3 separate regions of the Homo sapiens genome follow, and all the other regions are linked to region 1. The links come from fine-mapping of genetic effects on gene expression. A gene starts in region 1. Each other region holds a variant in brackets. All regions are shown on one strand. Distances are between the middles of the regions.

Region 1 (4,244 bases):
CTTTCTGATTTAATCACACATGCAGAGTAAGACATTGGATGCTAATAATCTCAGCCACCATTAAAATGTTTGTGTCTGATTAAAATTAATGCATTATTGAAGGGAAATATATTATTATCTAATAAGTGTGGATGTGTATTCTATCATACTTCAATCCTTCGAAAATGCTGGACTAGTGAATATCACAAAACAGGAAATTAGTAATACAAAATAAAAATGTTAGGAAGATGCTGTAAAATGAAAATACTGATTATATCTGGGTGTTGATATCACCATGACTTTTTAAATTGCTCTTCTGATTTTTACACCTTTTTTACAATGCACAAACTGTACTTGTATAATAATAGTTATGTCAGCGAGAATGTATGCACTCGTATTTAGTTAAGAAATATTGTGGCATGTACAGTACAGTCCTGATTAATAAACAATCTGGTTAATAAATAATAATTTTGTCTGTATTATGAGGAAAAACTGACATTACTCAGAAATTCAACACACTGAAATCGAAAGTACTAGAATGATCTACTTACACAAATCGTCTTTTAAAACACTACATGACACTTGAGTAAACCAGCCATCAAACAGGACGCGGCTTTTGGATGATCATTACCTATAGTTGGTAAGAACTGAAAATTTTTAGGGGTAAAATTTAGTGTATACAGTACCTTATTATGCAGCAGAAGAGGCTAGTAGGTCGAATCCTGCCCAAGAGGTTTTGCAATTTTCTCTTTAAAAAACACCTACTTCTCCCGCATCCCCAACACCCACAGCGCTCCTTAAAGGAAAATGGATACGGATGCCCCATCCCTTTGGTTTCTCAATGCATTTTACTTAGAAAGAGGTCACCTAGTAAGACCCATGTGGTGAATGTGCACCCGGGCGGGGCATGAGGGTCCTTGGAAAGCACCGCAGAGAGGGCGACACCGCAAACCGCTGTCCCACGCGACCCCCGGGGCGAGCCGGGGCAGCGCTGCACTCGGTGCGCACCGGCAGCGTCTGGCACCCACGCCACCTGCTGCTCCCGCGGGTCTGGCAGGGGCAAGGGGCGGAGTGGGCAGGATCTTCAGATCAAAGGAGACCGATGCTTGCCCACGGCATCCAGCGTAGGAGCCGGAATCGAGGTGACCCCAGATTTTCCCAGAGTGTCTGTCTCCTTTCCCTTCTCAGAACTCCGAGAGCCAACGCTAAGGGGCACCAGAGGCTCAGACTGCGGCGGCGACTCGCAGGCACCCAGCTCGCCCGCGGCTGCGGAGGTCCTCGGAGGAGCCCACCCGGGAGGGGGTCTGGACGCAGGCAGCGGGGGCAGAGGGAGGGTCGAAGCCGCTCCAGAGGGTCCAGGTCCGAGGAGGAGCCCTCGGAGACGCGGACGGTGCGCGCGGAGGGCAGGGCTAGGCAGTGACCCCGGGTGGCACAGGGCTTACTGTTTCTTCCTAAGACTCTATGAGGCCACTTCTAATCGTTTACTTTAGAATAGGAAAGAAAACATAGACAAATGGGTGGCTGTCACCCAGGCAGCTACACGGTCGATGCAGGTGCACAGGCGTGCGCGCCATTCTCCCGTGTCACACAGCAGGACGGAATAACTGCACGCACTGGGAGCGATGGATCTCGCGGTCCGGGATCCGAGACGCATTCAGAGACCAAATGTCACCTCATCCCTCCTCTAGCCAATTCGAGCTTCCTCCGCGGACCCCCACCTTCCATCCGAAGTGGCTCGGTCCTTAGTTGAGAGGACTCTGCCCAGACCCTCGCACCAGTAGAGACCTCTGCCCGGGCGCCTGCAACTCGGACGCTTCCCGGAGCCAGAGCGTGCGGGCGGCGCGGCCGCGAGGAGCCTCACCGGCCATGCCGTCCGCAGTCTGACTTTTATTTTTCTCTTCAGTGATTAAAACAAAATATCGTGGACAGGGGGACAGAAAGGAAAGAGCAGGCGCCTGAGCCCGGGGAGCCGGGCGGGGGCCCCCGGGCCCCGCGGCCCCGCCGCCGCCCGCCCCCGCGCGCCTTCTCCCTCCTCCCGGGCCGAGCCGGCGCCACTGCGCCAGGATGGAGCGAGCTCGGCGCGGGAGGAGATGACGCAAAAGCCAGCGCTCCCCCCAAAAAAGTGTTTCTCCAGGACGAAGATGGCGGCAACTTAGCCCGCGGACTGAAGATGACTGTGGCTCTCGGGAGGCCCAGCCCAGGCGATTCGGCCCGGAGCTCCGCGGGAGGCGGCGTCAGCAGTCGGAGCCCCGGCGGCGGCGCCCGCGGGCGGCCCTGCGGCAGCGGCGGCGGCGGCGGCGGCGGCGGCAGCACTTAGAGCGCGGGGTGGGGGGTGGGGGGGAGGGAGCGCCCCGCCGGAGGCAGCCCAGGCTCCGGACTCTGGGAGAGCCAGCGCGGAGCAGGAGCGGGAGGCGGAGGAGAAGAAGAAGGAGAAGGAAAGGAAGGAGGAGGAAGAGGAGGAGAAGAAGAGGAGGAGGAGGAGGAGGAGGGGAGGCGCTCCGGGCGCCGTCAGTGGGCAGCGGAGGCGCGGCATGCCCCTGGCAGGGGAGAGCGGGCTGGGCTCCGCGGGGCCATGGGGACCCGCGCGCTGACAATGCCTGGGTGACCGGAGCCGCGCCAGCCACCCTGTCACCTCCACCATCGCCCCCTGCACCCAGCCTCGCCGCCGGCCACCAGCACCAGCCTCCTCCGTCTCTCTCTCTCTCTCTCTCTCCATTATTGTTTCCCACTCTACAGAGGATGGGGTCGGCTGATGATTAGGAAGCAAGTCAGACCTTCCTTCAAAGCCTGGTAATATTTATGTAGGCAAAAGAGACAGAGAGAGATAAAAGAGAGGGAGAGGGAGAGAGAGAGAGAGGAGAGAGGGAGAGGGGAAGAGAGAGAAAGAGAGAGAGGAGAGAGAAGAAACGGGAGGAGGGGATAAGGAAATTAAACCCTTTAAGTCAATGCATATTGTGGTGACACCGGCACAGGCGCCCTCACGGTGGAGTCGGCCAGGGCTGTGCGTTCCCAAAATATGACCAGGGGTGCTTGGATGTGTCGGCAGTATGACGACGGCTTAAAAATCTGGTTGGCAGCACCCCGAGAGAACGAGAAACCGTTCATCGATTCCGAGAGGGCTCAGAAATGGCGACTGTCTCTGGCATCTCTCTTGTTTTTCACAGTCCTGCTCTCTGATCACTTGTGGTTCTGCGCCGAGGCCAAGCTGACCCGGGCCCGGGACAAGGAGCACCAGCAGCAGCAGCGGCAGCAGCAGCAGCAGCAGCAGCAGCAGAGGCAGCGGCAGCAGCAGCAGCAGCAGCGGCGGCAGCAGGAGCCCTCCTGGCCCGCGCTCCTGGCGAGCATGGGGGAGTCCTCGCCCGCCGCCCAGGCACACAGACTCCTCTCCGCCTCCTCGTCCCCCACCCTGCCCCCCTCCCCGGGAGACGGCGGCGGCGGCGGCGGCAAGGGCAACCGAGGCAAAGACGACCGGGGCAAGGCTCTTTTTCTAGGAAACTCTGCCAAGCCCGTGTGGCGCCTGGAGACTTGTTACCCCCAGGGCGCGTCCTCGGGCCAGTGCTTCACGGTGGAGAATGCGGACGCGGTGTGCGCCAGGAACTGGAGTCGGGGGGCGGCCGGGGGGGACGGGCAGGAGGTGAGGAGCAAGCATCCCACTCCGCTCTGGAACTTGTCGGATTTTTACCTTTCGTTTTGTAATTCCTACACACTTTGGGAGTTGTTCTCGGGGTTGTCCAGTCCCAACACTTTGAACTGCAGTCTGGATGTGGTGCTCAAGGAAGGCGGCGAGATGACCACTTGCAGGCAGTGCGTCGAGGCTTACCAGGACTATGACCACCATGCTCAGGAGAAATACGAAGAGTTTGAAAGCGTGCTCCACAAATATTTACAGTCGGAGGAGTACTCGGTGAAATCCTGTCCTGAAGACTGTAAGGTAGGAACCCTCGGGGGTTTCCCCCTTTCCTGCACTTTCCTATCTCTGCTTGGTTGGGGTGTCTTCTCAAGTTTATTATTATTATTTTTTGGCTATGGTTTTGTTACTTTGTGTTTTCTGCGGTTATTAAGAGCTTGGCTTGCTGTTTGAGATGAGAATACCTGGTGGATTGCTGGTGGACTGACTGATGCCTTCTTCTGGGAGTCCTTGGAAGATCAGGGAAGTCCCCGGTTATCTGAGATAATCAAGCTGGCACTTTAACTGTTTCTTACATTCATGCAGTTGGCTCAAACTCTGTTACATCTTTTAAGAAAAGGAAGTTGAAAAAGTCTTG
Region 2 (4,244 bases), 96 kb after region 1:
TGGTTTTAGAAAAATTATTCAAAATACAGGAATAGAATTAGGACAAGAATAAGAAATCAGTCCTTGAAATTATTTTATCAGAATTTTAGCTTATTTAACCCATGGCAAAGTAATTACAAGATTATCCCATAATAACTTGAGGTCTAGCCATATATTAGCTTTAAACAAAGACATTAGTCTTTTCTGCACTGTTTCTGAGCTTGTTTATTCTGAGTATGATTTATCACTCTGAAGTATGATTTATCATGTGTATCAAGATAGTTTCACATTTGCTAGTACTATCTTTGCTTCAGTTCATATTTCTGATGAGAAAATTGAAAGTAATCTATCAAACTGGAGTATGATCAAGGTAAAATATGTCAGACTCTGAATGAAAAACAATAGTCAACTAGCTTCTAACAACACATGGCCAATATACTGCTTACCTTAGTAGTACTTTGTTTCATCTTCTTAATGACATTGAGCTTCTTAAAGGAATTGTAAATTATTCATGTTACCTTGCTGGTGCATAGCAAGGTACACTGTACTCATTTAATCTTCTTTAAATAAAACAAATATGAAATGTAAAAAAAACCCTCTTTTCAAATGTGATAGATAATAAAGATCTATCCTGAAATTTTACATTGCATACAATTTAAACATTATTTTTTAATGGGGAAATAATCACATATGGTAGAGATTTTATACAGAATTTTAAAATGTGGCATTAAAAAAACTTGTTCCATGGAAAACTGCTTTCAGAGATTTTTAATAAGTGTTTCTCTCACATAGGAACCTAAGCTTCTCAGAGCTTTTAATAGGCTTCTAACAGGCTAATAGTCAAGGCCGTGACCCAAGAAGGGATATAGTTCACAGTGTTTTCCACAAATATTTCACCCCAGAATTTCTTTTCTCGTTGAACATGTTTTAGAAAAGCCTGCTGTAAATGATGCTGCAAATCTCACAATGGCTAATTTAGCTTTTACTGATATATTACCTACATTCTTAATTAGGGACTTTTTTTCACATAGCATTTATATAACTCCTGAAACAACTCCCTGAATTTATGTTTTACATTGAACTTATCTCAAAAAAATAGAGACATATTGTATTGTTTGTGCCAGGACAAGATTTTGTTTTTTTCACATTAAATATGGAAACTCTCTAATAATGCATAACAGATCAGACAAATGGTCCACTTACCTCAATATTTTAAAAAATTTTCACTACTAATGGTATAGGAAAGCGGTCCCTATCCAGACCCCAAGAGAAGGTTCTTGGATCTCGCGCAAGAAAGAACTCAGGGCAAGTCCGCAGTGCAAAGTAAAAACAAGTTTATTAAGAAAGTAAAGTAGCCAAAGTGTAGCTACTCCGTAGACAGAGTAGGAGTTCCTGAAAGTAAGAGGAGGGACGGGTCCACCCTAGATACGATACGTGTGTATATGGGGAGATGTGCTCTGCTTCAAGGGTTTGTGATAGAGGATTAATTTTCTTAATTACTATATTTTGCAAGAATCAGTATTATTATTTTTAAAGCAAAATTAGAAATGCCTTTGTTCTCATGTCTGTAACCCCAGCACTTTGGGAGGCCGAGGCGGGCAGATCACGAGGTCAGGAGATCGATACCATCCTGGCCAACATGGTGAGACCCTGTCTCTACTAAAAATACAAAAATTAGCTGGGGGTGGTGGCATGTGCCTGTAGTCCCAACTACTCCAGAGGCTGAGGCAGGAGAATCACTTGAACCCGGGAGGCGGAGGCTGCAGTGAGCCGAGATCGCGCCACTGCACTCCAGCCTGGCGATAGAGCGAGACTCCGTCAAAAAAAGAAAAGAAATGCTTTTGTTCTGCAGATATCTGGATATCTGGACACTCTCAAGTCTGAGTCTATTTAGTAAACATTATTAATTTGTTCCCTTAACAGTAAACATCTACAGGCTAGGAATGCCTTTCTGGAAATGCAGCCCAGCAACTCCTAGCCTCATTTTCCCAACACTGACTCAAAATGGAGTCGCTCTGGTTCGAACGCCTCTGACACTAATATATATTATATATTATACTATATTACATATTATAGATTTTATATATTGTATCATATATGTTTATAATATGCATACATATATACATTTATGCTGTTAAGGAAAACAAAACAAATATTTTATATATGTGTATGCATAAAATGACATGCAATCCAGTTGATAGCCATTAAGTATGTTATGTATTATGATGATAATTATAGGCCTTCTGCAATTTATTTATATTTTCAATTGTAAAACATTTTTTGAAAGCGGATTTCAAGTAATTATCATATACTGACACACACACACACA[A/CACACACACAA]CATGTTAAAATAACATCTCAAACCAATATATAAATTTAGGATTTGGAAACATCCAGAAAGTAAAATTTAAAAGTTCTGTTAATTTTACATTTTGGTAAGATTTGTTTTGTAAATTTAGTCCTTAACATAATGCAAATTTAATCTGCAAGATAGAATACATAGATAGATAAATCGATATTTGACATACAATTTCAAATGAAATTGTTTTATGCCCCTTTGAGGAAACATGTCAGGTGATTTTATTTAAGGAGCTACACCCAGGCTCCCTCATTCCTAGGAAGGAAAAAGACCAGAAACTCACAAGGTCTGCTAAAGGCCAAAGACTATTTAGGCCAAAAGGAATAATGCAACCAAAAGATTGCCAGAAGCAAAGAAAACAAAGCAAAAAAAGAAATCAGCAAGTTATTTCAAAAGGGAAGAGAAAAATGTAAGTCAGGTCATTAAAGATTTAATTGACTAGTACAAAGTCTGTGAGAACAAAGCCATCAAATGAACATTTACAATGAGCCCATTGAGATTTCACCCAGGCCATTAACATGTCTTCCTAATTACAATAGGCAGCTCTCAAAAGGCTGTTAGTAAACCCTGCATTTTGGAGAAACATATTTGGACAATGGCTTGAGAGTGATTAGAAGGATCACTGGATAAGAAAGTTCATATTACTTACTTGTGAAACCATGGTACTTGAAGTCTGTTTCAGAAGTGAAAGCCCAGTTGTAGGTACTTATGAACTGTATTTTTCCTTAAAACGTAGAGCTCTTATTTAATAATAAACTAGAGTTACATTTCTATATTCTATGAATAATTTGTTATGCATAAATAATATTAAATCATTTTTGACATTTTAAAGTTTTAGGCATGCAAAAGAGTTGACAATTTAGAGTTGACCTTTTACCCCTCATCTACACTTTCAAGGAGAACTAAACAACTACCTCTGAATTTTAGGCAGCTCCAAACAGCATAAGTAATCAAAAGAACGTCTTAGATAACTTTGGCTAATGTTGGAGATTATCATTATTATAAAAAACAAAAGTGGGCCCGGCGCGGTGGCTCACGCCTGTAATTCCAGCACTTTGGGAGGCCGAGGCGGGTGGATCACGAGGTCAGGAGATCGAGACCATCCTGGCTAACACGGCGAAACCCCGTCTCTACTAAAAAATACAAAAAATTAGCCGGGCGTGGTGGCGGGTGCCTGTAGTCCCAGCTACTCAGGAGGCTGAGGCAGGAGAATGGTGTGAACCCAGGGGACAGAGCTTGCAGTGAGCCGAGACCGCGCCACTGCACTCTAGCCTGGGTGACAGAGCGAGACTCCGTCTCAACAAAACAAAACAAAACAAAACAAAGCAAAAAAAATTGAATTTTGAAGTTTGAGATATTTGGAGGATGTATATTGATGGAATTCTCTAAGTGGTGATGGTAACCCATTATACTTTAGGCTCAGACAGCAAAACTTTCCACAGCTGGTGATTTAATCAGGGACTGGTGGATTATATAAGGGTTAATGGAACCGTTTTTTTAGGACTAAAACCTGTGTTTATTTCTTCTTTTTTTTTTTTTATTATACTTTAAGTTTTAGGGTACATGTGCACATTGTGCAGGTTAGTTACATATGTATACATGTGCCATGCTGGTGTACTGAACCCACTAACTCGTCATCTAGCATTAGGTATATCTCCCGATGCTATCCCTCCCCCCTCCCCCCACCCCACAACAGTTCCCAGAGTGCGATATTCCCCTTCCTGTGTCCATGTGATCTCATTGTTCAATTCCCACCTATGAGTGAGAATATGCGGTGTTTGGTTTTTTGTTCTTGTGATAGTTTACTGAGAATGATGATTTCCAATTTCATCCACGTCCCTACAAAGGACATGAACTCATCATTTTTTATGGCTGCATAGTATTCCATGGTGTATATGTGCCACATTTTCTTAATCC
Region 3 (4,244 bases), 35 kb after region 1:
ATGACTACTCTCTCACAGCTTGGCTGATAAATAAAGGCATGATTCATTCATTTTTTCCCCATACTCTTGACATTGATGGTAAGAGCTGTGCAGTTATAAAAAACGTTAAAAATTCAGTCTCTTGCTCTCTGGCTCAAATGTAATGCAGAAGTGGTCTAATTGACCACAGTTGTCCTAAGTGGTCTAATTGACCACAGTTGTCCCTTGGTATTTGAGAGGGATTGGGTTCCAGGATCCCCATGGACACCAAAATCTGTAGATGCTCACATCCCATATTTAACATGGCATAGTATTTGCATCTAACCTATGCATGTTCTCCCATGTACATTAAATCATCTCTAGATTACTCATAATACCGAATACAAAGCAAATGCTATATAACTAGTAATTAGGCTGTATTTTTAAAATTGGTGTTTAATTCTTATTGTCATATTGTTATTTATTATTATGATTACTATCATTATTATTTTTATATTTTCGATCCTCAGTTGAATCCATGGGTACAGAACCTGTAGATATGGAGGGCCAACCATATTAAGTTTGAAATTTCTTCCTCAAAGTTTCCATAGTTTTACAAATTTATATATTAGTGAATGGCATTATTAAAAATTAAAAAAACAGCTTTAAGGTACTTTAATATAATTAAGATAATATGCAAAATACTGGAAATTAAAATACTATTATTAGAAAAAAAGTAAAAGGATGTTATGGAATAATACCTTTACATGAGAAGCATTATCATGGCCTTAGGTAACAGGTGGTCAGAAAGCTTGTCCTTTCTTTCAACATTTTAACTAATTGGTTGAGAAGTTTTTGACTCATGATTTAATCTGTTTCCCCATTGCTTTCGTATGTCAAGTATCTTGTTTTTGACACCTTTGTAATGGAAAGGATTGAGAAGGGGGATGATGATCATTGAACATGAGTAAAAAATACATTTAAACATGGCACCCAAGAAAGTAAATATATTTGGTACTTCATGATAGGGAGATTTGAATGTAGAAGATCTGTTTTAAGAGCTAGAAGTAACAGTGTAAGACAGCTAGCAGGAATAGTTTTCCAAAAATAATCCTATAGATGGAGAAAGAAAAGAGGAGGTGACTTTCATCCCATGAATGCACATTGGACAACAGAGAGCTTATTTTGAACCGAGTGTAAAATCATACCAGTAGTATTCATATGTGTATTCAATACATATCAATTAAGGAAAGGTGTGGTATAGGTAAGACACTGTGCAAGTCACCAAGTCTACCCTGGTGAGCAATGTAGACCTTGTTCTTGTTCCGGAAGCAGTTCAAATTATTCATCAGACGTGTCTTCGTATGTTCAAAGTGGTATGCTAAAGGAGGCGCAGGGACCATCTGAGAGGGCTTCACTTAGCGAGGGCCCTCTGCACAGAAAACTGCAGGGCGGGTACCATTAGCTAGGAGATGGGGCATGTGCGTGGAGCACCAGAGAGGCCAGGGGCCACAGGAAGAATGGAAAAAGTGCTGACTAGCTCCATGGTAGAGTGTGAGGGAGGGGAGGCTACAGATGCCAGCAGGCGCTGTGCTGCTGAAGAAGAAGAGATTGGAGTGTATCCAAGGGCATTGGGAAACTACTGAG[C/T]GCTCTTAAGAAGATGCAGCCTATGATTTGTTGTTTTTGAAAGATCAGTCTTCTGCGGCTTGAACTGGGGGTCAGGAGACAGCAGCACTGTAGGAAGGAAGGTCACTTAGGAGATTCTTGTAATTAGCGAGACAGAGGAGAGCAGAAGCCACACCAGATGGGGCCTGTAAGGGTTGAAGGAAGAGGACAAAGGCTTCTGGCTGCCACAATGGACAGGACTCTATGGATGTTAATGAAAGGAAGAACGAGGAGTTGCGAAGGACCCTGACCCTTCCAATGTAGGCAAGTGAGCAGCAGGTGGTATCATTTCGTAAGACGGGAGAGGCAGACAAACAAGTTTTTGAAGGGTGATGGTGTGGAGTTCAGTTTTGTACATATTAGATTTGAGGTGCTTGTGGGATCCAACTGGGGTTAGCAAATCTTCATTATATACCCCAAATATGAATATTTTATTGCTATATTATGTATATATAAATACATTAGCACTAATGTGCATGTATATATTTATGCACATTCAGTATATATACAAAATATTTACATAAGATGAGATAAAGCTGAAGTAAGCAATATTTTAAAACATTTTTGCCTATGAATGATATATAATATCTTTTTTACTTAAATAGAATGGATTAAATATAATAAATATTATATTAATGATAACATGTTAATTATCAGCTTGAAGGTAGAATAATAGGATTGAATATCCATCATTATTTCTAAAATCTTAGTTTAATATTTAGGATAAAGTGCTTGGAAAATTTACTTGTAGGTTCAGTTCATGTCACAGTTTTGGTTTCAGTACCAGATATAATAGTTTAAAAGATAATCACAAAATGTGTAGTTCTAAATGGAAGGACAATATGGACTTCATGAAATCATTAGACTTTATTTTAATGATGTCCACAAATTATGAAAAATTTTTTTCCTCAAACAATTGAAATGCGATTTTTGAATTCCCATCTTCCTTAAAATTAACTGTCTTTACAAACTAAAAGAATGTTGAATTTTTGCATTATTATCAAATGAATTTAAACCGAAGCTAAACTCTGGAATATTTTGAAATATGTTAGAAAGTTCTCTGTCTGGGCAGAGATGAGAGGTGGCATACATTGTTTTCAACAACAAAATCCCAGGGGCTGCAAATACGCGCAAACATCTTGTTACAAAATACTCTTTCCAAAGCTTAAATGTCTTCCCTGAAATCAGTTACTGTCATTTCTACCTCATCATTATATAATCACCTTTCTCAGAAGTGCCGTTGAGTATGTTTACATTTCAAGCTTGGTTCCAGATTTTTTACTCTTTTTTCTATTGAATCACAGCACTACTCAGTAATTTTAGAACATGTCTTTTTTTTTCTTTTTTTAAGAAAAATAGTTTATTTGTACTTTGACCTAAGCCAAACCAGCGAAACTCTGCAGGGCCCAAGATGTTGCCATGACTACATTCCATCTCTGCAAATTATTATACAATGCTGCTATATTTTAATATATTATTTCTTTAAGTTATGAATAATTGCCAATCTTATTAAGTGCCGAGGCTTACTTTTTAAGAGTTTTAATCTTATTGATTTCTTTAGTTTCTCAAGGCACAGTATACATGTACGGTAAAGTTTATGGTTAGCAATAGTCAATGTAATCCAGAGGTCAAATCGTCTTCTTGATCATTTGAATTTTTAAACTGTCTGTTTTTCAGGTCTGGATGAACTATCTTGGTTTTTACCTTGAAATGTGGATAATGAAAATTTCTTATTCAGAGTAGGAAAAGTGTCAGCATTGCGATTTCTTCTTGATTTATGTGTTTCTATTTTGAGGACACTCTTCAGTCCCAGTTTCTTTGCAGGAATCTTTTACAACTCTGGTTATAAGGAGCTCCTTTAATCCGCACAGCCAGAGTGAGGTCAGCACTGTCAGCCCATGCTCTTTGCGGAACATCCTATTTCCCCCAGGACTTTCATTTTTCATGTAGGACATGGGATTATCTGAGATAAGGATGGGGTGAAGGTACCATTTTAATCCACATATTAAATATGAGTAAGTCTTAATTCCATTCATAGTTTAATACAAAAGGCAAAGGAAGACATCTCTGCACACACACATGCGTCAGTGGCACATCGCATTCTTTGACCTCCCTTTGGAGGCCTGTGGTGCAGAAGGAGCTTAAATATATGGGAAGGGGTGAGATCACACGGAGAGAGTGTTTGGAGGGAAAAAGAGGAGGGATGGAAACACTCAACAACAAGAATCCTCCCCCCGCTCCCCGAAATTGATTAAAACATGGCCAAAGGGCTTGAATAGATATTTCTCCAGCAAAGATACACAAATGGCCAAAAGACATGAAAAGATGTGAAATATTTCTAATCATCAGGGAAACCCAAATCCAAACCACAGTGAGTTACCATTTTCCAGCCATTAGGTTCGCTGTCCCAGAATCAAAAAATAGCAAGTGTTGGCAGGGATATGGAGCGATTGGAACCCTTGTGCATTGTTGGTGGGAATGTAAAATGTACAGCCACTGTGGAAAACAGTATGATGGTTCCTAAAAAATTAAACATACATTTTATACATAGATAATTACCTTGATATTATTCTTAATATATTCAAATAAACAACGACATTTAAAGGAACGAAGGATACAGT

Which allele goes with the higher level. Positions count from the first base shown, and alleles are read on the strand shown. Sizes are in standard deviations (SD) of each study's normalised expression. Not every link is listed here.
With allele C in place of T in region 3, the expression in thyroid of the gene that starts at base 2,096 in region 1 is lower (moderate effect, 0.54 SD a copy in GTEx).

Evidence for each region. PIP is the estimated chance that this variant, and not a neighbour inherited with it, causes the effect. A credible set is the group of variants that fine-mapping cannot tell apart.
Region 2: its variant is the best candidate, but not a certain one, in a credible set for the expression of NALF1 in testis (GTEx, PIP 0.51).
Region 3: its variant is the best candidate, but not a certain one, in a credible set for the expression of NALF1 in thyroid (GTEx, PIP 0.84).

The regions. Positions count from the first base shown.
Region 1 is chr13:107,865,348-107,869,591 of GRCh38, reverse strand. NALF1 (NALCN channel auxiliary factor 1) reads left to right here and starts at 2,096. Exons shown (of 3, transcript NM_001080396.3): 1 at 2,096-3,910. The coding sequence starts at 2,996. It overlaps LOC124903206 (heparan sulfate glucosamine 3-O-sulfotransferase 4-like), which reads right to left and starts at 2,919. Exons shown (of 1, transcript XM_047430833.1): 1 at 1-2,919. The coding sequence starts at 2,695. The coding sequence ends at 2,132. RefSeq lists an enhancer at 1,060-1,628.
Region 2 is chr13:107,769,313-107,773,556 of GRCh38, reverse strand. All of the region lies in intron 1 of NALF1 (NALCN channel auxiliary factor 1), which reads left to right. Among named protein-coding and RNA genes, the nearest start is that of NALF1-IT1, 64 kb to the left of the region's middle. RefSeq lists an enhancer at 2,552-3,105. The variant A/CACACACACAA (reference allele first, on the strand shown) is at 2,309.
Region 3 is chr13:107,830,252-107,834,495 of GRCh38, reverse strand. All of the region lies in intron 1 of NALF1 (NALCN channel auxiliary factor 1), which reads left to right. All of the region lies in intron 1 of NALF1-IT1 (NALF1 intronic transcript 1), which reads left to right. Among named protein-coding and RNA genes, the nearest start is that of NALF1-IT1, 3.1 kb to the left of the region's middle. The variant C/T (reference allele first, on the strand shown) is at 1,606.